Linked DNA regions of Homo sapiens: all the other regions are linked to region 2. Evidence: fine-mapped QTL for protein levels in blood plasma. A gene starts in region 2. Each other region holds a variant in brackets. All regions are shown on one strand. Distances are from middle to middle. Region 1 overlaps PLXNB2 (plexin B2). Region 2 holds the start of PLXNB2 (plexin B2). Region 3 overlaps MAPK11 (mitogen-activated protein kinase 11).

Evidence for each region. PIP is the chance, under the fine-mapping model, that this variant and not a neighbour inherited with it causes the effect. Protein levels are from the aptamer-based SomaScan assay of Sun 2018.
Region 1: its variant is fine-mapped to the plasma level of the PLXNB2 protein (Sun 2018, PIP 0.95). The variant lies in the coding sequence of PLXNB2. If it changes the protein, the assay may bind it differently, which can mimic a change of level.
Region 3: its variant is fine-mapped to the plasma level of the PLXNB2 protein (Sun 2018, PIP 0.95).

Annotation. Positions count from the first base shown.
Region 1 is chr22:50,278,759-50,286,943 of GRCh38, reverse strand. It overlaps PLXNB2 (plexin B2), which reads left to right. Exons shown (of 37, transcript NM_012401.4): 9 at 657-771; 10 at 846-954; 11 at 1,043-1,144; 12 at 2,279-2,371; 13 at 2,731-2,812; 14 at 2,954-3,111; 15 at 3,194-3,342; 16 at 3,499-3,607; 17 at 3,758-3,894; 18 at 4,063-4,233; 19 at 4,631-4,760; 20 at 4,863-5,090; 21 at 5,202-5,378; 22 at 5,445-5,584; 6 more. Among named protein-coding and RNA genes, the nearest start is that of MAPK11, 12 kb to the right of the region's middle. RefSeq lists an enhancer at 3,628-4,827. The variant A/G (reference allele first, on the strand shown) is at 3,239.
Region 2 is chr22:50,303,523-50,311,707 of GRCh38, reverse strand. PLXNB2 (plexin B2) reads left to right here and starts at 4,062. Exons shown (of 37, transcript NM_012401.4): 1 at 4,062-4,155. It overlaps DENND6B (DENN domain containing 6B), which reads left to right. Exons shown (of 20, transcript NM_001001794.4): 20 at 1-2,678. RefSeq lists silencers at 2,991-3,040, 3,741-3,790, 3,951-4,150, 4,161-4,230, 4,751-4,901 and enhancers at 5,450-5,819, 5,209-6,408.
Region 3 is chr22:50,261,607-50,269,712 of GRCh38, reverse strand. MAPK11 (mitogen-activated protein kinase 11) reads left to right here. Exons shown (of 12, transcript NM_002751.7): 2 at 1,764-1,893; 3 at 2,086-2,144; 4 at 2,231-2,342; 5 at 2,427-2,456; 6 at 2,539-2,586; 7 at 2,665-2,779; 8 at 3,102-3,173; 9 at 3,408-3,487; 10 at 4,053-4,131; 11 at 4,219-4,392; 12 at 4,686-6,000. The coding sequence ends at 4,765. MAPK12 (mitogen-activated protein kinase 12) reads left to right here and starts at 8,030. Exons shown (of 12, transcript NM_002969.6): 1 at 8,030-8,106. RefSeq lists silencers at 1,861-1,930, 7,692-7,741, 7,752-8,061, 8,092-8,106 and an enhancer at 6,913-7,644. The variant C/T (reference allele first, on the strand shown) is at 4,582.

The DNA of each region.
Region 1 (8,185 bases), 25 kb after region 2:
TGTTGGGGAGGTTCTGGCTTCTTGGGCTGTCCGCAGCCACGCCCCCCAGGCCTGTAGCAAAGGTGACTTGTCTTCAGCCTGCTCCCTCATCACGTCCGGAGCGGCATGTGGGTGCCAGGCGCCAGGCCCCGTCGTCTCGGCAGACGCCCCTCACCCCTTCCTGCCATGTCCAGCTTCAGAGAGCAGGGCCGTTCCCAGAGGCTGCAGGGCCTCGCATGTGGGCCAGGGCAGGCGTCGCGCCCATGTCCCCTGAGTTTTGGGGGCAGTGGGGCCACGCAGTGACGTGGGCAGGGACCTGGCAGGTCCCACTCAGACTCCAAGGAGCCGCTGCCCTCAGTGCCTGCGGGAACAGAGGGTATGAAAGCAACCTGGACCCGGGGGAGAAAGGCAAGCCCGGTGCTGCGCCCGACACCCGAACCAAGATCTGATAGCAGGTGGCAGGTCCAGCCCAGCGTGAACGGGCGTCCTGGCAGCCCCACCCGAGATCTGATAGCAGGTGGCAGGCCCCGCCCAACATGAATGCGGGGCGTCCTGGCAGGGCCCCCTGAAGACCAGGGGTCTCCACCTTGGCCCCAGGAGTCAGCCCCAGGGGAGGCCCAGCCTGGCCCTCGGCCCTGCGGCCGCCACCTTGACACCTCCCCCTCTGCTGTCTGCAGACCACGTGGCCGTGACCATCCAGCTCCTCCTTAGACGAGGCAACATCTTCCTCACGTCCTACCAGTACCCCTTCTACGACTGCCGCCAGGCCATGAGCCTGGAGGAGAACCTGCCGTGAGTGTCTTGTGCCCATCGACCCCACCCTGCCCGTCCACCCCAGCCCTGCTCACGATCCCCTCTGGATGCAGGTGCATCTCCTGCGTGAGCAACCGCTGGACCTGCCAGTGGGACCTGCGCTACCACGAGTGCCGGGAGGCTTCGCCCAACCCTGAGGACGGCATCGTCCGTGCCCACATGGTGAGGGGCCTCGGGGCCTCAGGGGACTGTTCAGGGCATGGCTGCTCCGCTGTGCCCAGGCAGCACCTGACCAGCCTTACTCTCCCAGGAGGACAGCTGTCCCCAGTTCCTGGGACCCAGCCCCCTGGTGATCCCCATGAACCACGAGACAGATGTGAACTTCCAGGGCAAGAACCTGGACACCGTGAAGGTGCGGAGGGAGGGGTGCCGGCTGGTGACAGGCAGGCTCAGGTGCGGAGGGAGGGGTGCCGGCCGGTGACAGGCAGGCTCAGGTACGGAGGGAGGGGTGCCGGCCGGTGACAGGCAGGCTCAGGTGCGGAGGGAGGGGTGCCGGCTGTGACAGGCAGGCTCAGGTGCGGAGGGAGGGGTGCCGGCCGGTGACAGGCAGGCTCAGGTGCGGAGGGAGGGGTGCCGGCTGTGACAGGCAGGCTCAGGTGCGGAGGGAGGGGTGCCGGCCGGTGACAGGCAGGCTCAGGTGCGGAGGGAGGGGTGCCGGCCGGTGACAGGCAGGCTCAGGTACGGAGGGAGGGGGTGCCGGTTGGTGACAGGCAGGCTCAGGTGCGGAGGGAGGGGGTGCCGGCCGGTGACAGGCAGGCTCAGGTGCGGAGGGAGGGGTGCCGGCCGGTGACAGGCAGGCTCAGGTGCGGAGGGAGGGGTGCCGGCCGGTGACAGGCAGGCTCAGGTGCGGAGGGAGGGGGTGCCGGTTGGTGACAGGCAGGCTCAGGTGCGGAGGGAGGGGTGCCGGCCGGTGACAGGCAGGCTCAGGTGCGGAGGGAGGGGGTGCCGGTTGGTGACAGGCAGGCTAAGGTACGGAGGGAGGGGTGCCGGCCAGTGCTGATGGGTGTGTGGGAAGCCTGAGCTCCACCCGTGCCCCCCGACTCGGGGCCCCCACATGAGGTAGAGGGCACAGGATTTATCGGGGACAGAGGCCAGGAGGCAGCACTCGGGGGCCTTTGGATGGGCCTGAAGAGAGGCAGTGGAGGAGGCAGGCGTGTGGAGATTGAGGGGCCAGTGCCACCTCCTGAGGAGGGAGCTGTGGGGGCCACGATGTCAGGTGGGCCGGGCGATGTTCTCAGGTGTGGATGAGTGGTGGAGGTGGCCGTGGGAAACCCACAGAGGACGTTCAGAGGCTTCTGCAGACACAGGTGTTTGGGCTCAGGAGTGGCCGAGGGGTCAGCTGGCATGGTAATCTGAGGGGCGGGCATGTGTGGGGTGAGGAGAGGGCTCCCACACTGTAGGCACAGAGGAGGGGCTGCAGGGGTTCTGGGAGGAGGGCCAGGGTGCCACAGCCGCCTGTCCAGGGTCCTGACGGCATGGTCTGCAGGGTTCCTCCCTGCACGTGGGCAGTGACTTGCTCAAGTTCATGGAGCCGGTGACCATGCAGGAATCTGGGACCTTCGCCTTTCGGACCCCAAAGGTACGGCTCCAGGGCAGGCCGGCTCGGCTGCTGGACCCCAGGGCCCCGGGTGGGGTGGGGGGTCACCTTCAGGACTGTGAGGGGAGGGGCAGCAGGGAGACCCCAGGGACCAGAGCCCAGCCAGGGGCTCGCCATGCCCTGTGCTGCTGGGGAAGCCCCCTCTGCCCTCTGCCTCCCTGGGGACAGAGTGGCACAGAGCAGCGTCCATGGGGTTCCCGAACTTCCGACACCTGAAGGCCTCCCCTGCTGCCCTTGGCTGGGAAGGGACCCGGTGGCCACAGGGAGGCTGCCCTTGTGACCCCCGCCCCACGCCCCTCTGTGGGGGCAGGAAGTGCAGTGTGCCCCTGCGTGTCCCCCAGCTGTCCCACGATGCCAACGAGACGCTGCCCCTGCACCTCTACGTCAAGTCTTACGGCAAGAATATCGACAGCAAGCTCCATGGTGGGGGCCACGGGCGCAGTGGGGGGCGGGCAGGGGACGGGTGGGCACAAGGCGGTGGGTGGGGGGACAGGTGGGCGCAGTGGGGAGCAGGTCGGGGGCGGGCAGGCACGGGGTGACCACTGACGGCAGCTCTCCCCGCAGTGACCCTCTACAACTGCTCCTTTGGCCGCAGCGACTGCAGCCTGTGCCGGGCCGCTAACCCCGACTACAGGTGTGCGTGGTGCGGGGGCCAGAGCAGGTGCGTGTATGAGGCCCTGTGCAACACCACCTCCGAGTGCCCGCCGCCCGTCATCACCAGGGTGAGCCCCTCGAAGCCTGGCCTACACCTTCCCTCGTCCCTGGCATGAGCCCCTCCCTGCTCACCCGGCTCTGTGGTTTCAGATCCAGCCTGAGACGGGCCCCCTGGGTGGGGGCATCCGCATCACC[A/G]TCCTGGGGTCCAATTTGGGCGTCCAAGCAGGGGACATCCAGAGGATCTCTGTGGCCGGCCGGAACTGCTCCTTTCAGCCGGAACGTTACTCCGTGTCCACCCGGTGAGTGGACGGCCCTGGTCTGGGCCCTGTCAGCTGGGTCAGTACCCACGCTGGGGTTCCGGGTGACTGGGTGGGTGGGGAGGCTGAGGGGGTGAGGGTGTCAGGGTGTGGGGTGGGTCGGGGAGTGCCTGGGCCACACTGCCTGTCGCCCGCCAGGATCGTGTGTGTGATCGAGGCTGCGGAGACGCCTTTCACGGGGGGTGTCGAGGTGGACGTCTTCGGGAAACTGGGCCGTTCGCCTCCCAATGTCCAGTTCACCTTCCAAGTAAGCACCCGGCCTCGGGGACCTGCCGAACCCGGGAGGACCGGGAGGAGGGGCTCTGCCCGCCGCCTCCCCACGACAGTTACCATCCAGCCCAGGACCGAGGGCGTCCTGTGCCCCGTCCTCACCCGAGTGCCCCTGCGGCTCTTTCAGCAGCCCAAGCCTCTCAGTGTGGAGCCGCAGCAGGGACCGCAGGCGGGCGGCACCACACTGACCATCCACGGCACCCACCTGGACACGGGCTCCCAGGAGGACGTGCGGGTGACCCTCAACGGCGTCCCGTGTAAAGTGTGGGTGTCACCGCCAGCTGCTGAGTCTGGTTGGCCCTGGCCCTGGGTATGGAGGGGGGCACTTACTGAGACCTGAGTGGCCCTGAGGGGATGGCGGGGCCAGCCTGGTCGGGCTGGGGCTGGTCCCGGGGGAGGGGTTGATGCAGACCAGCACCCTCCCTCCCCCAGGACGAAGTTTGGGGCGCAGCTCCAGTGTGTCACTGGCCCCCAGGCGACACGGGGCCAGATGCTTCTGGAGGTCTCCTACGGGGGGTCCCCCGTGCCCAACCCCGGCATCTTCTTCACCTACCGCGAAAACCCCGTACTGCGAGCCTTCGAGCCGCTACGAAGCTTTGCCAGGTGAGGCTGGTGTCCCCCCGCCCCCCTCTGCTCCCCACACCCAGCTGCCTCCTCAGTGCCCTTGGCTGACTGTGCTGAAAGGAATGTGGTGGGGCTGGTCTGTGCAGCGGGAGGCGGCCTCCGGAAAACCCCACTGCACTCCAGATCCACTTCCTCCTAGAAACCCAGATGGGCACACCAGAGGCTCCACGCTCACCAGGCCCCGTGTGCCCCCCGCCCACTTGCGGCACAGTCTCGTGCTCAGCACGTCCCACCGCGTTGCCCCTTTGCCCACCGAGACCCACACATGCACCTGGAAGCCCCGTGTGGTCAGGGCCAGGGTGGGCGGGGACGGGAGGGCGGAGGCTGCAGGGACCACCCCTGCCAGCCGAGCCCACGAAGGCACTGCCCTCCGCAGTGGTGGCCGCAGCATCAACGTCACGGGTCAGGGCTTCAGCCTGATCCAGAGGTTTGCCATGGTGGTCATCGCGGAGCCCCTGCAGTCCTGGCAGCCGCCGCGGGAGGCTGAATCCCTGCAGCCCATGACGGTCAGTCCTGGCGTGGGCTCAGCTCTGGCACCGGCCCATGGGATCGTGCCCAGGAAGGGCGGGGTCTGCGCCCGGGGGCTGACAGCTGGGACTTGCCTGCAGGTGGTGGGTACAGACTACGTGTTCCACAATGACACCAAGGTCGTCTTCCTGTCCCCGGCTGTGCCTGAGGAGCCAGAGGCCTACAACCTCACGGTGCTGATCGAGATGGACGGGCACCGTGCCCTGCTCAGAACAGAGGCCGGGGCCTTCGAGTACGTGCCTGACCCCACCTTTGAGAACTTCACAGGTGGCGTCAAGAAGCAGGTCAACAAGCTCATCCACGCCCGGGTGAGGACGGTGCAGCCCCGGGTGTCTGGGTCCTGCTCGGGTCTGGGCTGAGAGCTGGTCCACCTGTCCCTGGTTCCCTCCTCCTCACCCCGACCACTGCCGCCTCCCCAGGGCACCAATCTGAACAAGGCGATGACGCTGCAGGAGGCCGAGGCCTTCGTGGGTGCCGAGCGCTGCACCATGAAGACGCTGACGGAGACCGACCTGTACTGTGAGCCCCCGGAGGTGCAGCCCCCGCCCAAGCGGCGGCAGAAACGAGACACCACACACAACCTGCCCGAGTTCATTGTGCGTGAGCGGGGACTGGCGGGGGGTGCCCCCACGGGACCGCGCTGAACCCGGCCCCCCACACAGGTGAAGTTCGGCTCTCGCGAGTGGGTGCTGGGCCGCGTGGAGTACGACACACGGGTGAGCGACGTGCCGCTCAGCCTCATCTTGCCGCTGGTCATCGTGCCCATGGTGGTCGTCATCGCGGTGTCTGTCTACTGCTACTGGTGAGCCCGCCCCCCGGCTGTGCCAACACCCTGAGCCCTCGGCCCTCCCGCCTCGGCCCCTCTGGCCTCATCCGCCGCCCTGCACAGGCAGGCGTGTAGATCCACCTCCTCATCCGGGCAGCTGAGCGGCCAGCCCCGGCAGAACCTAGGAGGCCCGCTGTGCCTTGCAGGAGGAAGAGCCAGCAGGCCGAACGAGAGTATGAGAAGATCAAGTCCCAGCTGGAGGGCCTGGAGGAGAGCGTGCGGGACCGCTGCAAGAAGGAATTCACAGGTAGGGACCGCTTGGGGGCTGGTGCTGGGGCGCCTCCTGGGGCGGGGATGCTGTGTGTAGCGTGGGGGTCAGGGCCCCACGTGGCCAGGGACGTCTCACGCCAGCCTCCCCCCAGACCTGATGATCGAGATGGAGGACCAGACCAACGACGTGCACGAGGCCGGCATCCCCGTGCTGGACTACAAGACCTACACCGACCGCGTCTTCTTCCTGCCCTCCAAGGACGGCGACAAGGACGTGATGATCACCGGCAAGCTGGACATCCCTGAGCCGCGGCGGCCGGTGGTGGAGCAGGCCCTCTACCAGTTCTCCAACCTGCTGAACAGCAAGTCTTTCCTCATCAATGTGAGCCAGGCGTCGGGCGGGCGGGAGGGCACACAGGTGGCGCCGGGCAGGCTTTGACCGCCGGCCCCTACAGTTCATCCACACCCTGGAGAACCAGCGGGAGTTCTCGGCCCGCGCCAAGGTCTACTTCGCGTCCCTGCTGACGGTGGCGCTGCACGGGAAACTGGAGTACTACACGGACATCATGCACACGCTCTTCCTGGAGCTCCTGGAGCAGTACGTGGTGGCCAAGAACCCCAAGCTGATGCTGCGCAGGTGCACATGGGCGGGGCCACGAGCGGGGCCACGGGCGGGGCGGCCGCAGGGGCTCTGGGGCTGGTGGCGGGTGGCACAGCGGCCTGTTGGGCCCCCAGGAGCCGGCAGGTGCCAGCCAGCGCTGGTGGTGGGGGGCGGTCTAGGGGTGGTGTCCCCGGCCACAAACTCAAAGCCGGACTCTAGCCCTTCCTGTCCAGCGGTTTCAGCTGGTCACAGTGTCAGCCCTCTGCAGAACAGAAGGAAGGTGGCACACTTCCCACAAGGGCTGGAGCTGCCACCAGGTAGTCCTCGCTGCAGGCCACACCCAGGCTGGACAGGGGCGAGGCTGGCGCAAGGGTGGCCGGGTGCTTGGAGGAGTCAGTTGGGCCTCAGGAATACTACGGGGTCACTCGGTACAAGGCCTCCCTGCACCCCCAGGTCTGAGACTGTGGTGGAGAGGATGCTGTCCAACTGGATGTCCATCTGCCTGTACCAGTACCTCAAGGTGGGTTCCACCCCAGCCTGGCTGGGGCTTGAGGGATGAGGCAGACTGCTGCCATCCCCTCCTGCGTTCCCCTATCTGTACGGCACCTTGAGGTGGGCCCTGCCTGGACAGGTTTGCTTCCTGCCCCTGACATGGTCAGCCCCGTCCATGCCTCTGGCCAGGGCTCCGGGGGCCCCTTCCAGGCCCCAAGTCCCCTGACCTCCCAGCCTCCCCTCCGTGTTACTCCAGGACAGTGCCGGGGAGCCCCTGTACAAGCTCTTCAAGGCCATCAAACATCAGGTGGAAAAGGGCCCGGTGGATGCGGTACAGAAGAAGGCCAAGTACACTCTCAACGACACGGGGCTGCTGGGGGATGATGTGGAGTACGCACCCCTGGTGAGCTTCTGGGGTGGGGGCCGCCATGGGCGCCTCGGATCTGGGCTAAGGAGCTTGGGCATCCCCTGGCCACAGATGGGACCCACAGGCCAGAGGCCGTCCACCTCCTCTGTGGATTCGAGTTACAGCCTGCTCTAACTCGGCCTCAGGGAGGGGCCTGGGTGCTGGTGGCTGTGGGCTCTGGAGGCTCTAAGTGTGCGGGCCCCGCATCAGCTCTTCCCGGGCGCCCCCACCTCCTGGAGGCCATACAAGGGCCTGGCACACCAGGTGTGTCCAGGGTTCTGTGCATACATGACCAGTGGGTGTGGCAGGAGCCTGTGCATGTGTGAGACGTGTGTATTCTGTGTCTGTACATGTGCTTCCATGAGCTTGCGTGACAGCCTGAGTGAGCGGTTCTGAGCCGTCCCCGTCTTTCTGTCCTGCTGAGCCGGAGCAGGCAGGGGAAGGGCAGAGTGTGGTCATCTGGGAAGCCTCGGGGGCTCGGAGCCGGGCTGGCGGGGGCCTGCTGCCCAAGGGTGCCGCTGTGGTGGGCAAAGCTGGCGGGGCAGGGAGTGGCTCCTGCATGGTGCAGGTAAGAGCAGGGCCTCCCACTGGGCTTCATCCCGGATGTCTCGGCAGACGGTGAGCGTGATCGTGCAGGACGAGGGAGTGGACGCCATCCCGGTGAAGGTCCTCAACTGTGACACCATCTCCCAGGTCAAGGAGAAGATCATTGACCAGGTGTACCGTGGGCAGCCCTGCTCCTGCTGGCCCAGGCCAGACAGCGTGGTCCTGGGTGAGTGCCGGCCCCTGCCCGTCTGCACACAGGCGCCCATGTGCCTGGCCTGTGTCCTGGGGCGGTATCCTGCCTGGCCAGCTTTCTCATATGGGA
Region 2 (8,185 bases):
CTTGTCTGGGGATGGGAGGCTATTTTGCATATAGTCATCAACTTGAGAAAGGGAGAGACCACTTTGCAGTGTGAAGAGCTCTGCTCACCACCCCTGGTGCTCCTCTGGACACCCACCTGCTTGGGGCTGTGGTTTGTTGGGAGGTAGGGGTTGGGCAGGGGGCTGTGTGCAGCCCAGCACCTCTGCTAGGAGAGCTGGCTCAGCCTGGCTCTCGGAGAGCCACAGCACCTTCCTGGCTCCCAGTCCTGGAGCCCCCACCAGGCACCAGCTCCGTGCGTCCCTTCTGGGAGGTGGACAGGGCTCCTGTTGTCCAAGTGTGTCCGTCCATCCCCCACATGCAGCCCAAGGGGCTCTGGACTTCGGCCTGACCCTGCCTCTGGCTGGAGCCTGCATGTCTCCCTTTCCTTGGTAAGGGGTGAACGTCCCTAAGAGCCACCTCTGGGTTGTATGCTCCCCCCGTGACACCTGCAGGCACTGAGGCCGGTGAGGTACGGTGTTGACCCTGCACAGCACACAGTGACGGTACTGTCAGGGCTCCGGACAGCCAAGCCCTGCTCAGCATCACGCACTGTGTGCCCGGGAGCAGGTCCCCTGACCACTCAGACCCTCAGACTCCTCATCTGAGCGAGCCAGCCATGCAGATGCCCGACAGGGTGCTGGGAGGGCCACTCATGGAGACTGGGCTTTGTACCCTGTGAGGCCGGGCGGGTGCTGGCCAGGGGACACAGGGCTGGGGGAGGGACTTTTTCTTTTTTTTTCTTTTTGAAATGGAGTCTCGCTCTGTTGCCCAGGCTGGAGTGCAGTGGCATGATCTCGGCTCACTGCAAGCTCTGCCTCCCGGGTTCACGCCATTCTCCTGCCTCAGCCTCCCGAGTAGCTGGGACTACAGGCACCCACCACTGCGCTTGGTTAATTTTTTGTATTTGTAGTAGAGACAGGGTTTCACCATGTTAGCCAGGATGGTCTCGATCTCCTGACCTCGTAATCCGCCCGCCTCGGCCTCCCAACGTGCTAGGATTACAGGCATGAGCCACCGCGCCCGGCCGGGACTTTTCTTTTTCTTCTGAGGCCCCCATTCAGTCCGAGGAATGTAGCCTTCATTCAGCGCAACGTACTGTTTGTGTTCTCATTGGTGCTCTCAGACCTCCAGCCAGGTGGTGGAGAGCGAGCACTGCCAGCCACTTCAGTGCAGGATGTGACTGAGCCACAAGGACAGCGGGGTCAGGTGTCCGGGCGCCAGGTAGTTCTCAGAACTTGGTACATGTCAACTTGTCCAGCCCAACTGCAGCCCAGGACAGCCTGTCCCTGTTCCCATTCTACAGACAAGACGCGGAGGCAGCCGGGAGGGTGACCAAGGGGAGCTGTTAAGCCCCAGATGTCTGGTGCAGGGTCCAAGGATGTGACCACATGAAACAGAACACATAGAGGCCGAGGTGGCAAACCTGTTCTGTGGCAGGGACAAGCCGGGGACCCGAGGGTGAGAAAGGTCCTGGCCCCAAATGCAGCTTGGGCCTCCTGACTGTAGCACAGGGGGACCAGCCTCCCCACTGAGGGCTTGGTCTCTAGAGGGTCTGCAGAGATGCTGGCACCTCTTGTGTGGGCAGCTTGAATGCTGACCTCCATAAGATGGGGCCTGGGGGGCCAGTACAGGCCCTGCCATCAGCTGCCCTCCACCAGGGCCCTCTGCAAAAGCCTTATGCTGGTGACCAGCCCCCTGAGGACCACCACTTCAAGGTGTCGGGGCAGCTTGGGAAGACAACCCACCTCTCTCACAACTGTGACCCCACTTTGGGGAGCGCACCCCAAGGACCGTGGCAGCATGTGCTTCCCCACAGCACAGTCTCGCCTCACTTGGCTTTCTGAGGGCTGCCGCACAGCACAGAGGGCTGCAGACCCACATGGCTGCAGGGGAGGGGCTTCAGGCTGGTCTCTGAGGAGCCCCCAGGGACCCTGGCCACTGTGTATCCAGAAATGCACAAGCAGATTTCCCTGGAGGGCTCTGGTGAGGCCACATAGTGGCGTGTGAAGGGGGAACTTGAGGGGGGAACCGGGCTGGGTGGCCAGCATTGCCCTGGGCAGAAGCTAAGGCTAAGGTGGGGGGTAGTGTCCCAGCCCCTCTTCCTCAGGGCCTGTCCCCACCTGTGCAGAAGAGGCCTGGGGTGGAATGTGGCCTGGGGTGGATGGGTGGGGGCTGGGCGTGGAGACCTGCCAGCTCCATCTGTCCGGATGCCTCTTGTGGCCCCCCCAGTGTCAGGGCCGCTCTGAGTTGGCTGAGCCTCTGTCCAGGGCTAGGCCATGGCCCTCCCCGCCCCACGCACTCCAGGCCAGGGGCAGTCAGTGAAGAGGCAGGAAGGTCCAGACAGCTCTACCCCTGGCCAGAGTGCCAGCCCCCGCAGGCAAGAGGGCTTGCTGGGCAGAACTTAGTTGGCGAGGGTGAGGACTGCTGTGGTCACAGGCCTCCCGAAGGACAGGGACCACAGAACCTAGAGGGTGGGAAGGGCTGGGAGCAGGTCTGGAGTGGGGCTCGGGGCTGAGGGTGCACACAGGGGGCCTGCTCAGGGACAGGAAGGACAGCTGCTCACCCTCAAGCTTCCTGCTGGCTATTTAAAGACTCCCTTTTAGTCTAGAACAGTGGCCTTCCCACAGTTTTGGTATTAAAATGTCCTTTTGTGACTGGACCTTGTCTTTTCCTTTTTTGATAAAAAGTTGGCAACCTTGTCAGAACCTGGTAATTTTGGGGTCCTCTGCAGTGAAGGGTAGGGTTGCCGTGATGTGGATTGTGGTTCAAGGCCCAAGGGAAGATTTTGGACAGGAACAAGGCCTGGCTGCTTGAGGGTGGGAGAAGGCAGAGACTGAAAGAACTAAGTCAGGCTGGGGGAGTTTGTCAGGATGTGGCGGGGCGGATCCCGGGTGGGGGAAGCAGAGGAGGAGGGGATGCCTGGCTGGGGACAGGAGGAAGCTGACCAGCTGCAAGGACGGGGCAGGTCTGGGTGGAAGGCGGGCCCCAGGGAGGGGTGACCCAGGGTGGGGGCAAGAGCTTGGGGAATGCTTCTGTCTCCTGCTCAGCACATCCAGTTCCGGGAGGGCAGTGGAGGCGTGCTCCAAGGTCTGGCCCTGCAGACGGTTCACCACCTCTTCTCAAGCCCAGGGGACACTAGGAGCACTGAGGCCAGGACTTGGGACCTGGGATGCCAGAAGTGGGGCCAGCTCTGTCCCAGAAACCAGAACCCCCAGAAAGAGGTCTCGGCCCGCCCACCTCCTGGCCCTGAAGGACCAGGTGGGGTCCCGGGTGCAGCATCCCAAGGTGCTGCTGGAGGCCAGGGATGTGCTGGGAGGCCATCTCCAGGTCCCAGTTTACCCTGGGAGGTTGAGGGCCTGAGACCCCTGGGAAAGGGCCAAAGCCCAGCAGCCCCCACCCCTGAAGGCCGCAGGGGAGCGACTGGTATGCTTCCAGTCTGGGAGTGAGAGTCTGGTGCCCACACATCTCAAGACTGGCAGGGACCCTCACGTTCCTCTGGCCAGGCGAGAGTGCACTCATAATGCCCTCCCCTGGTACCAAGCCATGGCCTCCCCTCAGACCTGCGGGGTTCCTGTGGGGGTGCTCAGGCCATGGGGCCTCTGTGGGCGCTCGTGCTTCCTGGACGGCGGCATGGTGGGCAGGGTGCTGCCCTGGCTGAACCTGGGTCTGAACTGGGGTGCCTGAACCTACCAGACAATGCTGTGGCCGCTGGGCAGGGGAGAAGTGGGGGGCGCGGGGAGCGCAGGCCCAGCCCCTCCCCTCCCGTCCCCTCCCCTCCTCTCCGGTTCTCTTCTGCCCTCTCCTCCCCGCTCCTGCTCCCCCTCCCCTCCCCCTCCCCCTCTTCCCCCTCCCCCTCTCCCCCTCCCCCTCTTCCCCCTCCCCCTCTCCCCCCTCCCCCTCTCCCCCCTCCCCCTCCCCCTCCTTCTCCCCCTCCGCTTTCCCTCTCCCTCTCCCCCCTTCTCCTGTTCTCCCCGCCCTCCCCTCCTCTCCCTCGTCGGGGGCGGGGCCGGCAGCTCCCGCGCGCTCCGGCCCCTCCTCGGCCACACAAAGGCCCCGTCTCCATGGCAGCAGCGCGGGCCAGAGCGCAGCGCCGAGCGCGGCCCGGGCGCCATCGAGCCTTGGCGGCGGACGTGCAGGTACCGAGCTCGGGGGACTGGGCTGCGGGGGACGTCTCGCTGGGCGTGGGGGGGGCTTCGCCGTCAGCGCCGCTCCGCCCGGGCCTGCCGCGCTGGGGCCCGGGGACCTGCGGCGGCTGCGGCTCCGCGGAGGGCTCCCGGGGCCTGGGCCCCGTCCGTCGGTCCATCCGGCGAGGCCCGGGCCGCTGCCGCCCCACTCCCTTCCCGGTGTTGACTCGGGGGACGGGCCCGGCGGCGGGGGCTGCGCGTCCCTCCGGAGCCGCGTCGGATCCCTCCTCCGCGCCTGCCTCTCACTCTTCAGCCGCCGAGCTCCGTGCGCCGAGCGGAGATGGTCTCGCGGTGCGGGCGCTCCGGGCCGGCCCCAGGCTCAGCGGCACAGGAGCCTGGATTTGCCCGAGCTCCCGGGGGCCGTCCCCGCACCCCCTGGGGCCTGCTTGGCGCGGGGGGACCAGGGCGGAGAGCACCCGCACCTGGCGAGACCCCACTGCCTGGGCCTCCTCGCGGTTCCCAGAGTGGCGTCTGGGTGGACACCCCGAGACACAGAAAGTCTCAGAAGCGGGGGCGCGAGCCCTGCCTGTCCCCTGCTGACCCTGCCCCTCCGCACCCTGCTCCTGCAGGAAGCCCCTGCCCTGCCAGCGCCCCTGGTCGGGCTATTCGGCAGATCTGGGGAGCCCGCCTCCCCCTGTCATCTGGGGGTCTCAGAGCCCGGACGCCCTGGGGCTTCCTGCCAGGCCCTTGATTTCTCTTCCCGAAGCTCCCTGGGAAAGGAAGAAAGGGGTCCGTCTGCCCACTGTGGGCTGTGGCAGAGTCAGGACAGGGGGTGAGGGTGAGGGTGAGGGTGAGGGTGAGGGTGAGGGTGAGGGTGAGGGTGGGCCCCAAACCCGGCAGATCCCGGCGGCCTGGAGGGCTCCCTGTGCCCCACCTTCCCTGGACCCCCCCGCCCTCCCCACTTAATGTCTGACTTCGGCCCTTGCTTGGAGGTTCGGCGCAGCCTGTGAGGCTTTAAAGTTGAGCTTCCTCAGGAGCCCTTTGCGGGTGGGAGAGCGAGGCTGCCGGGAAGTGGGGGCTCTCAGCCTGCCCCATGCCCAGATGACCCTGGCACGGAACAGCTGAACAGCTGGTGGGAGGAGCCCTCCCTTTCCTGTCCAGAGGTGAGGGTCTCCCGGAGGGCAGGGCCAGCAGGCATAGGTTTGTGGCGAGTCAGCTTTTTGCATGTTGCATAGAAATCCCCAGAGCCGACTGAGAAGCAAGCAGGTGGGCCTGGCACATCTGAGTCCTCCCACGGTACCTATGGGGGGCCCACCTCTGTCCCGGGGGGTCTGGGAGGCCTGAGGTCTGGCCAGGGGTTCCTTGCCCCAGTAGAGGAGGGAAGTTACTGAGAAAAACAAGGGTTTGGAATGTGAGTCCCCCTCCCCCACCGGCTGCCTGCCAAGAAAGAATTATTTTGGATCATCCAGCCGTGTCCAGTCACCCGAAGCGGGAGGCTGCAGCGTGGGAGAAGGATCCACTTCCGGGACGTGGGTTGAGGGCCCCAGGAGGAGGACGGGCAAGTCCGGGCAGCTCTGCCACTTTCTACTGCAGCTGCCCAGACTGGGCGGGGAGAAGATGCGTCACCTTTGGGTTGGAGAAAGCCCCAAGGTTGGCCCCAGCAGGCCCTGCTGAGCCTGCAGTGGGCCCAAGCCCCTCTGGGGGAGACCATGGAACAGGAGGAGCTCTGGGCCCACCCAGGGACCCCCTCGCCCCACCCAGGGACCCCCTCGCCCCGAGAAGTCTCAATGGTGGTCTGAAGAGCCTCTGAGGTACCCTCCAGGCCCAAGTTCAGGGACACACCCTGTGCCAGTGACCTGTGCGTGCCAGGGAGGAGCAGGCAGGAGCGAGGCTAGGCTGCTAGGGAGGGCACTGGGGTTTCCCTCAGGGGGCCCTCCTGCCCCAACGGACTCCCTATTCAGCTCCTGACTAACGGACCAGCCTCCCTCCAAGCCCCTCCGACAGCCAGTCCTTGCCTACGACCCCCTCTGGATATGGCGCCTGTGAGCCCATCCTGCAGGTGGGGAGACTGAGGCCAGAGATAGGTCTATGTGAGGAGTCATCTGCGATGCTGTGTGGCCAGGGCTGTGGCTACCTGGCGCTCTGGGTCCATGCTGTGTGTGCGCCCGGGGTGTGTGCCCGGCGGCCTGCATGGGGACCACATCGGGGAGGAGGAGCCGGCAGCTGGCCCCAAGTGCAGAAAGCCCAGAGCCTTGGACCCGGCCCAGGGAAGTGGAGCAGAAGAGATTGGATTGGAAGGTGGTGGGGAGGGCCCATATGGCACAGTCCTCCTCCCATCCCAGGACGTCGTCCGTGCTCACCGTGTCCTGCCCCCTGCCTCACCCTGTGCCAGCCACAGCTGATGGTCCCCCTGGGACGCGGGCGTGGGCAGGGGTGCACTGGCTGGGAGAGGCTGTGTCTTCCGGCCCCTCATATTGTGCCTTCTCTGAGCTAGGCAGGCACTTGGATGCCAGGCCTCTGCCACGAGGGCTGCCTTCCCCTGAGCTGGGAGTTCTCACTCAGCTCATGCCTCCGTCCCTCTGGCTGCAGCCTGGCCGCCCTCCTTGGAAGTTGGCGGGGAACCTCTTGTGCCCAGAGCCTGCCTTGGACACGGTTTGGGGATGAGGTGGTGAGCTGCTCAGAATTCACCCAGTGGCCAGCAAGTGGCCCCCCAGCCTTGACCTCCCTTCTCTGAGGCAGATCCAGGTTCTCTGGGGGTGGGAGATTCAGTAGGGCTGGGACTGGCCACAGCCCCTCCCTCCCTCAGGGGTAGTGGCTGTTTGTGTTTGGGGTGGGGCTGTGGGTGGGGTGGGGCTGGGTCTCTGACTAATTACACGATGGGGAGGGTGGGTCAGAGCCTTGGCTGGTGGGGGGTGCTCAGGCTCTGGGGCCCCGGGGAGGCAGCTGCCCTAGCTTCCCTCTTTCTGGTCGAGGTTCCTCCACCTTCTTCCTTTCCGTGGTTTCACATCCCTTGACACAGGGCCTGCTTCTTCCCATACCCCTGGATTGTAAGGACCCCTGCCTTTCTCTGCCTACCAGGGAAGGACCCTGCACTGTTCTGGGCTCCCCCAGCCACAGGTGTGGCCTCAAGCCAGGCCCTGACACAGTGGCCCTCCTGGCTCAGAAGCCTTCTCTCTGAAGACCAAGCGTGTGAAGGGATTGGCTGGGCCCCTCCCGTCTGGCCCTGAACACTGGCACCCCGCACCCCCCCAGTGGATCCACCCTGCCCTGTGAGATTCATGAACCTGTGACAGTGACTGGCCCCAGGCCCAGTGGTGCCGGGGATGGTGGGACAGGCTGCCCCTGGTGGTACTGCAGGTTTGCCCCACCCCCGGGGATGTCTGTCTGGGGAGGAGCCTGGGGCTGGCCTGGCTGTGGAGCTGGGGGTTCTGTTTCGCACAGTCCCGCCTCTGCAGCCCAGATCCTGGAGCCCTTCACACCCAGAGGCCAGCCCACACCGTGGCCCGCTATGGTTGGTGGCCTTCCCTGGGGGTAGCCCCTAAGGCCACACCTGAGCTGCCTCATGTCCCAGGCTAGGTGAGGGAGGAGACTGCCCTGGGCTGGGATCAGGGCGCCTGGGGGCAGGTCCAGCTCTCTTCCTCAGCCCCCTAAGGTCTCCTGGCTTCTGAAAGCCAATAGTTCCTCATTCCAGTGCCAGCTGAGTCCCGGCCCAGGCCTGGGGCAGGAGAGGGAGGTGCTGCCCCAGTTCAGCCACCAGCTCTGCCAGCAGGGTCCCAGCAGCAGCAGCATCAGAGGCAGGGACTGGGCTCCTGGGGGTAGGGCCCCGGCCCCTCTGGCACAGCTGGTCAGCAGCTTCCATGGGGGGCCCTGTGTGGAGACACAGTGTCCAGCACCGATTTCTGGGCCTGATGCTGCCCCAGCTGAGTCCCGCAGCAAGCGCAAGAGAGAGAAGTGCTTGGTGTCCACCTCTGAGAAGGCCTCCTGTGTGAACACGGCCCCCTGAGGGGCCAGGCAAGGGCGTCTGCTCCTGTGGCTGGGACGG
Region 3 (8,106 bases), 42 kb after region 2:
ATCTCTCCCCCTGGGATGGCCTCAGACTCCCCCTCAGACCACAAACCCCACTTAGGCCCTGGGGCCAGAGGACCTGGCCTGGGGCCCAGGAAGACGACAGAGTCTGGGTGGGGGAGGGGGGTCAACTGGGCCAAGGTCTCTGTTAGACCCGGGTAGCCAGGGCTGGAGGGGCTTAGGGTGAGGTAGTTACCGGGAGTCCTAAGTTTCAGCCTCCATGTTGACTGGGAGGCTGATCATGGGTACAGGCTTTGAGAGGTGCAGCTGAGTCCTCACCATGGCCAATGCCGCTTAGCTGCTGCCCACTGGGGGGTCCTGGTGGGGCGCAAAGGCAGAGGCAGCCAGGGCAGAGCTCTGCCCCAGGCACTTGCAGGTTGGAAGTGGGACCTCTAGGCCCACCAGATTTGGAGCTCAGGAGCCGGCATCAGGGGCCGGGGGTCCCAGGGCAGGCTGTCTTCTGGTGTGGTCCCTAGCCTTCCATCAGAAGCTGTAGGTGGGTCATTCTAGCCATCATGCCAGCACAGATCTGTCTTCCTCTTTGAGACCTGAAGGGCAGGAAGAGGGTCTGGGACGGTGTGGGAGTGGCCATAGGGGACTAGGGTGGGTCATGGCTGGACTCGCCGTCTGGGAGTTGCTGAGAGGTGTCCGGTTCTCTGAGTGAGGCCTGGTCTCCCCCCTTGCACCCCTGGCCCATTTTCTTAGTTCCACTGCCAAGGCTGCGGGCCAGGTGCCAATTCCCTGTCACCTGACCGCACAGATGCAATTGGCCAAAAGAACTTGCTGCCCCACGTGCAGGGCCACTCCCCTCACCACCTCAGGAGCACCTTTCCCTGGTCATAGGCTGGGAGCATGGCTGCCCCAGGCACCTCGACCTGCGCCCATGAGCATCCCAGACCCAGCAGGAGCCGCTCCTGCTCCCCTTGTGTGGGCATGGGGGGTGGCCTCAGCCTCCACTTGCTCTGAGACAGGATCCCAAGAGACAGAAGTGGGAGGGAGAGAAGAAGCAAGTATCAGCCAGAGGGAACAGGCTGTGCAAAGGCCTTTCCTTTAGCAGGGCTGAGGGCAGTGGGACATGGGAGGGTGGGATGAGGGTCACCTGCAAAGGGAGGGTGGGCTCAGGAAGCTGGTGCAGGGTAGAGGGTCTGGACCTCTGGGAAGTGGGGCTGGGCGAAGGGCTGTTCTGTGGGTCCAGCTGACGCCCTCAGCTGTACATCACCTTCTGTCCCGGTTTTGTTCCAAATAATGATGCAATAAACACCTCTGACCAACTTTCCCTCCGTATTTTGAACATTCGGAGGCACCAGGGGTCCAGGGGCTTTGAGGTGGCTCTAGAATCCCCCTCTGTGAGCCTCCTGGGCCCATGGGGTCTATGGGGCAGAGGGAGGCCCGTCTGCTGCAGGTGAATGCCAGTGACTGTTTTCCTGCTGTGTTTTTCCACGCTGGATGGGGCACCTCTCCCCCAGCCTTGCTTTGAATGGGGGCCCCTGGTTGAGCGTGGGAATCAGTGGGGCCAGGGGACAGAGAAGGTCCAGGACCTTGTGGGGTGAACACACGCATGGTGGTCCAGCCCCAGGGGCTCCTTCCCAGCAAGCGCGGAGTGGGTAGGCCCGAGGGTGGGAGGCCGAGCTGGGGCGGCGGGGCCGGGGCAGAAAAGCCCCACGGCCCCATCCCCACGGAGAAGCGGCGAGAGGGACGCCGCCCGGGTCCACGCGCGTGCGGCCGCCCTCGGACCCCTCCCGGCGCCGCCTCACTCGCCCGCCTTCCAGTTCGGCCTACGACGCCCGGCTGCGCCAGAAGGTGGCGGTGAAGAAGCTGTCGCGCCCCTTCCAGTCGCTGATCCACGCGCGCAGAACGTACCGGGAGCTGCGGCTGCTCAAGCACCTGAAGCACGAGAACGTGAGCCGGGGGAGGGCCGTGGGGGGAGGGCGCGTGCGGGGGCGGGGCCGCGGCGCAGCCAATAGGCGGGCGAGCCCTGGCGATGGGGGCGGGGACACAGGGGGCGCGGCCTGGCACTGGGGGCGTGGCCCGGGGGGAGCTGAACGACAGCCGGGGGTTCGTCGCCCGGCCCTGACGCCCCCCGCCACCTAGGTCATCGGGCTTCTGGACGTCTTCACGCCGGCCACGTCCATCGAGGACTTCAGCGAAGTGTGAGCGGCGGGGCGGGCGAGGCAGCGGGGAGCGCGTTCGCGGTGGGGCGGTGGGGCCCTGTCCTGACCCCCTGACCCCGCCCCAGGTACTTGGTGACCACCCTGATGGGCGCCGACCTGAACAACATCGTCAAGTGCCAGGCGCTGAGCGACGAGCACGTTCAATTCCTGGTTTACCAGCTGCTGCGCGGGCTGAAGGTGGGGCGCCCTGGGCTTCGCGGGTCCTCTCGCAGGGGGGCGGGCGGGCCGGGCCCGGCGCTCACCACAATCCCCCTCCCGCAGTACATCCACTCGGCCGGGATCATCCACCGGGTAGGTGCGACCGCAGGGTGAGGGTCGGGTCCAGCAGGGCTCCGTCCCAGCCTCCTGTGCTCACGCTCCGCGTGACCTGCAGGACCTGAAGCCCAGCAACGTGGCTGTGAACGAGGACTGTGAGCTCAGGGTGAGGCCCGTGGGCAGGGGTGGGCAGGGCGGCGGCGGAGCCCGTGCGGAGCTTGAGAACACCACGTGGTCGCCCCAGATCCTGGATTTTGGGCTGGCGCGCCAGGCGGACGAGGAGATGACCGGCTATGTGGCCACGCGCTGGTACCGGGCACCTGAGATCATGCTCAACTGGATGCATTACAACCAAACAGGTGCAGGGGGAAGGCCTTGGGGGGACGAAGGCCAAGGGCCTCGTCTGGCCCTCGACTGGCTCTGCATGCCAGGTCTTAGGGGGCAGGCAAGGTCCCCAAGAATGTGGGACCCACATTCAAAAGTAGCCCTTCAGAGGCCGCTAGAGCATGATGGGTGCTGGCCTCCTCTGGCTGTGCAGCTATGGACCTCCCCCTGCCTAGGGGGGTTGGGTATGGCAGAGGAGGGGGTCTGCCCATCTTGGGGTCTGGATGTGACTGTGGGTCTCCTGGAGGAGGGACGTGGGGTGGGCACACTGATGGAGGTCCCCTCGCCCTCGCACAGTGGATATCTGGTCCGTGGGCTGCATCATGGCTGAGCTGCTCCAGGGCAAGGCCCTCTTCCCGGGAAGCGACTGTATCCTTGGCCCAGGTTGGGGAGCAGGGTCAAACAGGGCCCCTCCTGTAGGGTAGGGACCAGCGCTGGCCCCTTCTGGCGGGTCTTGCCTCCTCTGCCCCCCATGCTATGCTACTTTGGGCTGGCCATCCTCACCTATAGGAGAGCGGGCTCTGGGCAGCGCCCCAAAGTTTTGGGTCTGGGGGCCCAGGAGGGGTCTGTGGCTGGCCCGTGGGTGTTTCCTGAGTGACACAGACATTGACCAGCTGAAGCGCATCATGGAAGTGGTGGGCACACCCAGCCCTGAGGTTCTGGCAAAAATCTCCTCAGAACACGTGAGTTGGTGCCCGCCAGCCAGCAGCTCCCTCTCCTGGCTGAGCCCCCAGGCTCTCTGGGGGAGAGGGTGGTGTGGAAATGCGGGGACCATATGGGGAACATGGGATGTGGTGGGATAGAGCCTAGGGCAGGTGCCCAATCCCTGCAGGGGAAACAGGAGAAGGGGGAAGACATTCCTGACACCAGGGACAGTGAGTGCAAAGCCATGACCCCAGCAAGCAGTGCCTGGCCAGGGCAGTGGGGGTGGGCTGGGGGCCCAGCAAGCAGTGCCTGGCCAGGGCAGTGGGGGTGGGCTGGGGGACCCCAGCAAGCAGTGCCTGGCCAGGGCAGTGGGGGTGGGCTGGGTGGAGGGAGTGTACTTGGACCCAGCTCCTGCAGGCATTAGGGGCCAACTGAGGAGCTAGAACCACCAGATCCTATATGGAGGGGGTCACTGGTCTGCCTGTGCCCTTGTCCTGGCCTGTTGGAGTGAATGAGTCTGGGGGCTTGCCAAGAGAAGCCCCAGTTTGGGGCCAGGGAGGCAGAGAGTGAGCAGCCTCCCCAGGTGTTCTTGTGTGCCCCCAGGCCCGGACATATATCCAGTCCCTGCCCCCCATGCCCCAGAAGGACCTGAGCAGCATCTTCCGTGGAGCCAACCCCCTGGGTGAGGACTGCCCTGGGCTAGACTGGGCTCCATATCTGGCCCTGGATGTACAGCTGACCCCCCTCCCCACCACTGGCTTCCCTGCAGCCATAGACCTCCTTGGAAGGATGCTGGTGCTGGACAGTGACCAGAGGGTCAGTGCAGCTGAGGCACTGGCCCACGCCTACTTCAGCCAGTACCACGACCCCGAGGATGAGCCAGAGGCCGAGCCATATGATGAGAGCGTTGAGGCCAAGGAGCGCACGCTGGAGGAGTGGAAGGGTGAGCATGGCAGTGGCTGGGGGTGGGTCCAGGGGCCTGCGGGCTCCATTTCCCCAGAGGCAGGAAATGCCCCAGTTCCTCTCCAGACTGGTCAGGTGTGGAAGGGCGTTCAGGTGTCCAGCACAGGCTGGGAGCGGGGCGGAGGAGTGACACAGGGCAGGTTCTGGCTCCCAGACTGTGCTGAGGCTG[C/T]TGTCACAGGGTGGTGGGCCTGGGCTGGGTGGCAGGTGCCAGACAAGCAGGTGAGGGGCCGGGCTGTGGGAGGCACAAGCTCACCCTTTCCCTTCACCTCCTAGAGCTCACTTACCAGGAAGTCCTCAGCTTCAAGCCCCCAGAGCCACCGAAGCCACCTGGCAGCCTGGAGATTGAGCAGTGAGGTGCTGCCCAGCAGCCCCTGAGAGCCTGTGGAGGGGCTTGGGCCTGCACCCTTCCACAGCTGGCCTGGTTTCCTCGAGAGGCACCTCCCACACTCCTATGGTCACAGACTTCTGGCCTAGGACCCCTCGCCTTCAGGAGAATCTACACGCATGTATGCATGCACAAACATGTGTGTACATGTGCTTGCCATGTGTAGGAGTCTGGGCACAAGTGTCCCTGGGCCTACCTTGGTCCTCCTGTCCTCTTCTGGCTACTGCACTCTCCACTGGGACCTGACTGTGGGGTCCTAGATGCCAAAGGGGTTCCCCTGCGGAGTTCCCCTGTCTGTCCCAGGCCGACCCAAGGGAGTGTCAGCCTTGGGCTCTCTTCTGTCCCAGGGCTTTCTGGAGGACGCGCTGGGGCCGGGACCCCGGGAGACTCAAAGGGAGAGGTCTCAGTGGTTAGAGCTGCTCAGCCTGGAGGTAGGGGGCTGTCTTGGTCACTGCTGAGACCCACAGGTCTAAGAGGAGAGGCAGAGCCAGTGTGCCACCAGGCTGGGCAGGGACAACCACCAGGTGTCAAATGAGAAAAGCTGCCTGGAGTCTTGTGTTCACCCGTGGGTGTGTGTGGGCACGTGTGGATGAGCGTGCACTCCCCGTGTTCATATGTCAGGGCACATGTGATGTGGTGCGTGTGAATCTGTGGGCGCCCAAGGCCAGCAGCCATATCTGGCAAGAAGCTGGAGCCGGGGTGGGTGTGCTGTTGCCTTCCCTCTCCTCGGTTCCTGATGCCTTGAGGGGTGTTTCAGACTGGCGGCTCCAGTGGGCCAAAGGGCAACCACATGAGCATGGGCAGGGGCTTTCTCCTTGGATGTGGGACCCACAGCAGCTTCCTGAGGCTGGGGGTGGGTGGGTGGGTGGTTTGGCCTTGAGGACGCTAGGGCAGGCAGCACACCTGGATGTGGACTTGGACTCGGACACTTCTGCCCTGCACCCTGGCCCGCTCTCTACCTCTGCCCACCGTTGTGGCCCTGCAGCCGGAGATCTGAGGTGCTCTGGTCTGTGGGTCAGTCCTCTTTCCTTGTCCCAGGATGGAGCTGATCCAGTAACCTCGGAGACGGGACCCTGCCCAGAGCTGAGTTGGGGGTGTGGCTCTGCCCTGGAAAGGGGGTGACCTCTTGCCTCGAGGGGCCCAGGGAAGCCTGGGTGTCAAGTGCCTGCACCAGGGGTGCACAATAAAGGGGGTTCTCTCTCACTTGGCTTGTATCCAAAGGCTACTCCAGGCCCGGGTGCCCCCACCATCCCTGCTGCTGGGCGTGGGGGGAGTGTCTGGGTCATCCTGCATCACTCACCTCCAGCTGGCCAGATCCCTCAGGCCCCCAGTCAGACCAGCGGCCATCTTCTGGCACCCTCCCTGCTCCCTGGAGGGTCTGAGAGCCCAGGGGGACCAGGGGAAGACATGGCTGATGGGCAGACTTTGAGGGCACAGGGTGTGACAGCCACCCAGATGGTGACCCCAGCTGCCCTGTGGGGATGTACTGGGCAGGCTTGGCTTTGGGCCAAGATCCAGACACCACCCCCGCCTACCCCTCAGTGTTCAGGGAAGCTGGCTGGGGAGAAGTTGGGTGTCTCAAGGAGCAAGGGTCTGCCCATCCCTGGGTGGGGGCTGGGCAGGGTAGGGAAAATAGCTTTCCTTTCCCTCCTGGTGAAGGAAAAAGAGGCCACTTTAACCCAGGGAATGTGCACGCTGGTCCCGTTCCCACTACGCGCTGCAGCTTATGTGTGGGGGAGGGTCCAGGCCATTTGGGGTCAGGCAGTGTCTCTAAGGACCAGGGACAGTCTGTGCCCTTGCTTGGGTCTTGGGTAGGGGTGGAAACCGTCTGGGAGTTGGGGGCCTCCTGGGGCCTGGTCAGTGTAGTGGTCAATCCCGGGGGAAGTCCAGTGTTGGCGGTTGGGGGTGGGAGGAGAATGGTGACACAGCCCCACCTCAGAAGCCTGGTCCGTGCAGGGCCTGCTGGACCCCTGAGCCCCACCACGGGGAGTAAGGGGGACAGCGTGGAAGCTGGGCTTCCTGGAAGAGGTGGATGGAGTGCCACAGGCAGCCCAGGGCACAAAGGGTATGGGCCACAGGCAGCTGTGGTTTGGGTGGCCCTGGGCTGCCCCGCTCACTGGTCACGAGCTGGTGAATGCCGTGGAGCACGGCCCAAGCCCAGGTGTAAAGCTACTACCACCCTTGAGCGGCTGAGCTGCTGATTCATGGCAGGAGGGCGGGGCAGAAGGCCCTAGGGATCCTGTTACCCACCAGCCCAGTGGGCTCCTGGGGTGCCCCAACATCCCTTCTGAGATCCAGGTTCCTGGGCTGGTGAAGGGGTGTCAGGGTGGGGCTTTGCCCTCAGGAGCATCTGGTCCAGGATGGGGCCAGACCTATGGGAGGACAATGCCCACACAGAGGGGTCAGGCGGAGGGCCCCAGCAGGTCCCCATCCCTGCTGGAGAGAGTGCAGCCACTCTCAGCCTGGGTTTTGCAGGACAGGACAGGCAGGGGTGGGATGGGCAGAGACACCAGTACTTGCAATGCTTGGAGCAGGCACCCCACAGATGGGGGGAGCAGGGGGAGGAGCTGGGGGTCCAAAAGGGCCCACGGGGACCTATGGGACTGAGAGGCCCGGGGTCAGTGGCCACAGGAGTGGGGTTGGGGATGCAGCCTGAGGAGTTTGGGGGACAGACCCCTCCGTGTAGAAAGAGGGATACAGGCAGGACAGGTGCAGATGGACCCCTTGTTGGGGGACGGATGGATCAGGCTCAGTGGTAGGGCATCCTTGGGGGTGGCCTGCGAAGTTGACCCCGGGAACACAGGGCTCAGCCCGACTTGCGGCTGCCATAGAAGTCAGCGCTCAGGCTGTCAAGGATGGGCCCTGCGCCCTGGAGCCGTGGGGAGTTAGGACTGGAGCGGGCGGGGGGGGGGGGGGGGGGCTCCTGCTGAGACCCCCCCAGGGCGGGGAAGTTCAGCCAAAGGGGAGAGGCTGGCAGAGGTATCTCCGCGCCGCGTCCGGCCCTTTATGGGGACGAAGCTGCGGGGCGGCGCTCCCCTCCCCCTGCGCTTCCCCCCAGGCTCCGGCCCTCCCCAGGCTCCGGCCCTCCCCCGGCGGCGGCCGCCTCGGGTTTCCGGAGGGGCCGGAGGGCGGGCGAGGGCGTCACGTGCGCGCCGCCCGCGGGCCGGTTGGTCCCCGGGCGGGGGAGGGGCCGTGCGCAGCCTGGGTCGGGGTCGGGCCGGGGTCGGCACCTGGGACATCCCTGAGGGAAGGGCCGGGAGCGGGAGCGCCCCAGCGGCCGGCGGGCGGGCGGGCGAGCGGACGAGCGGC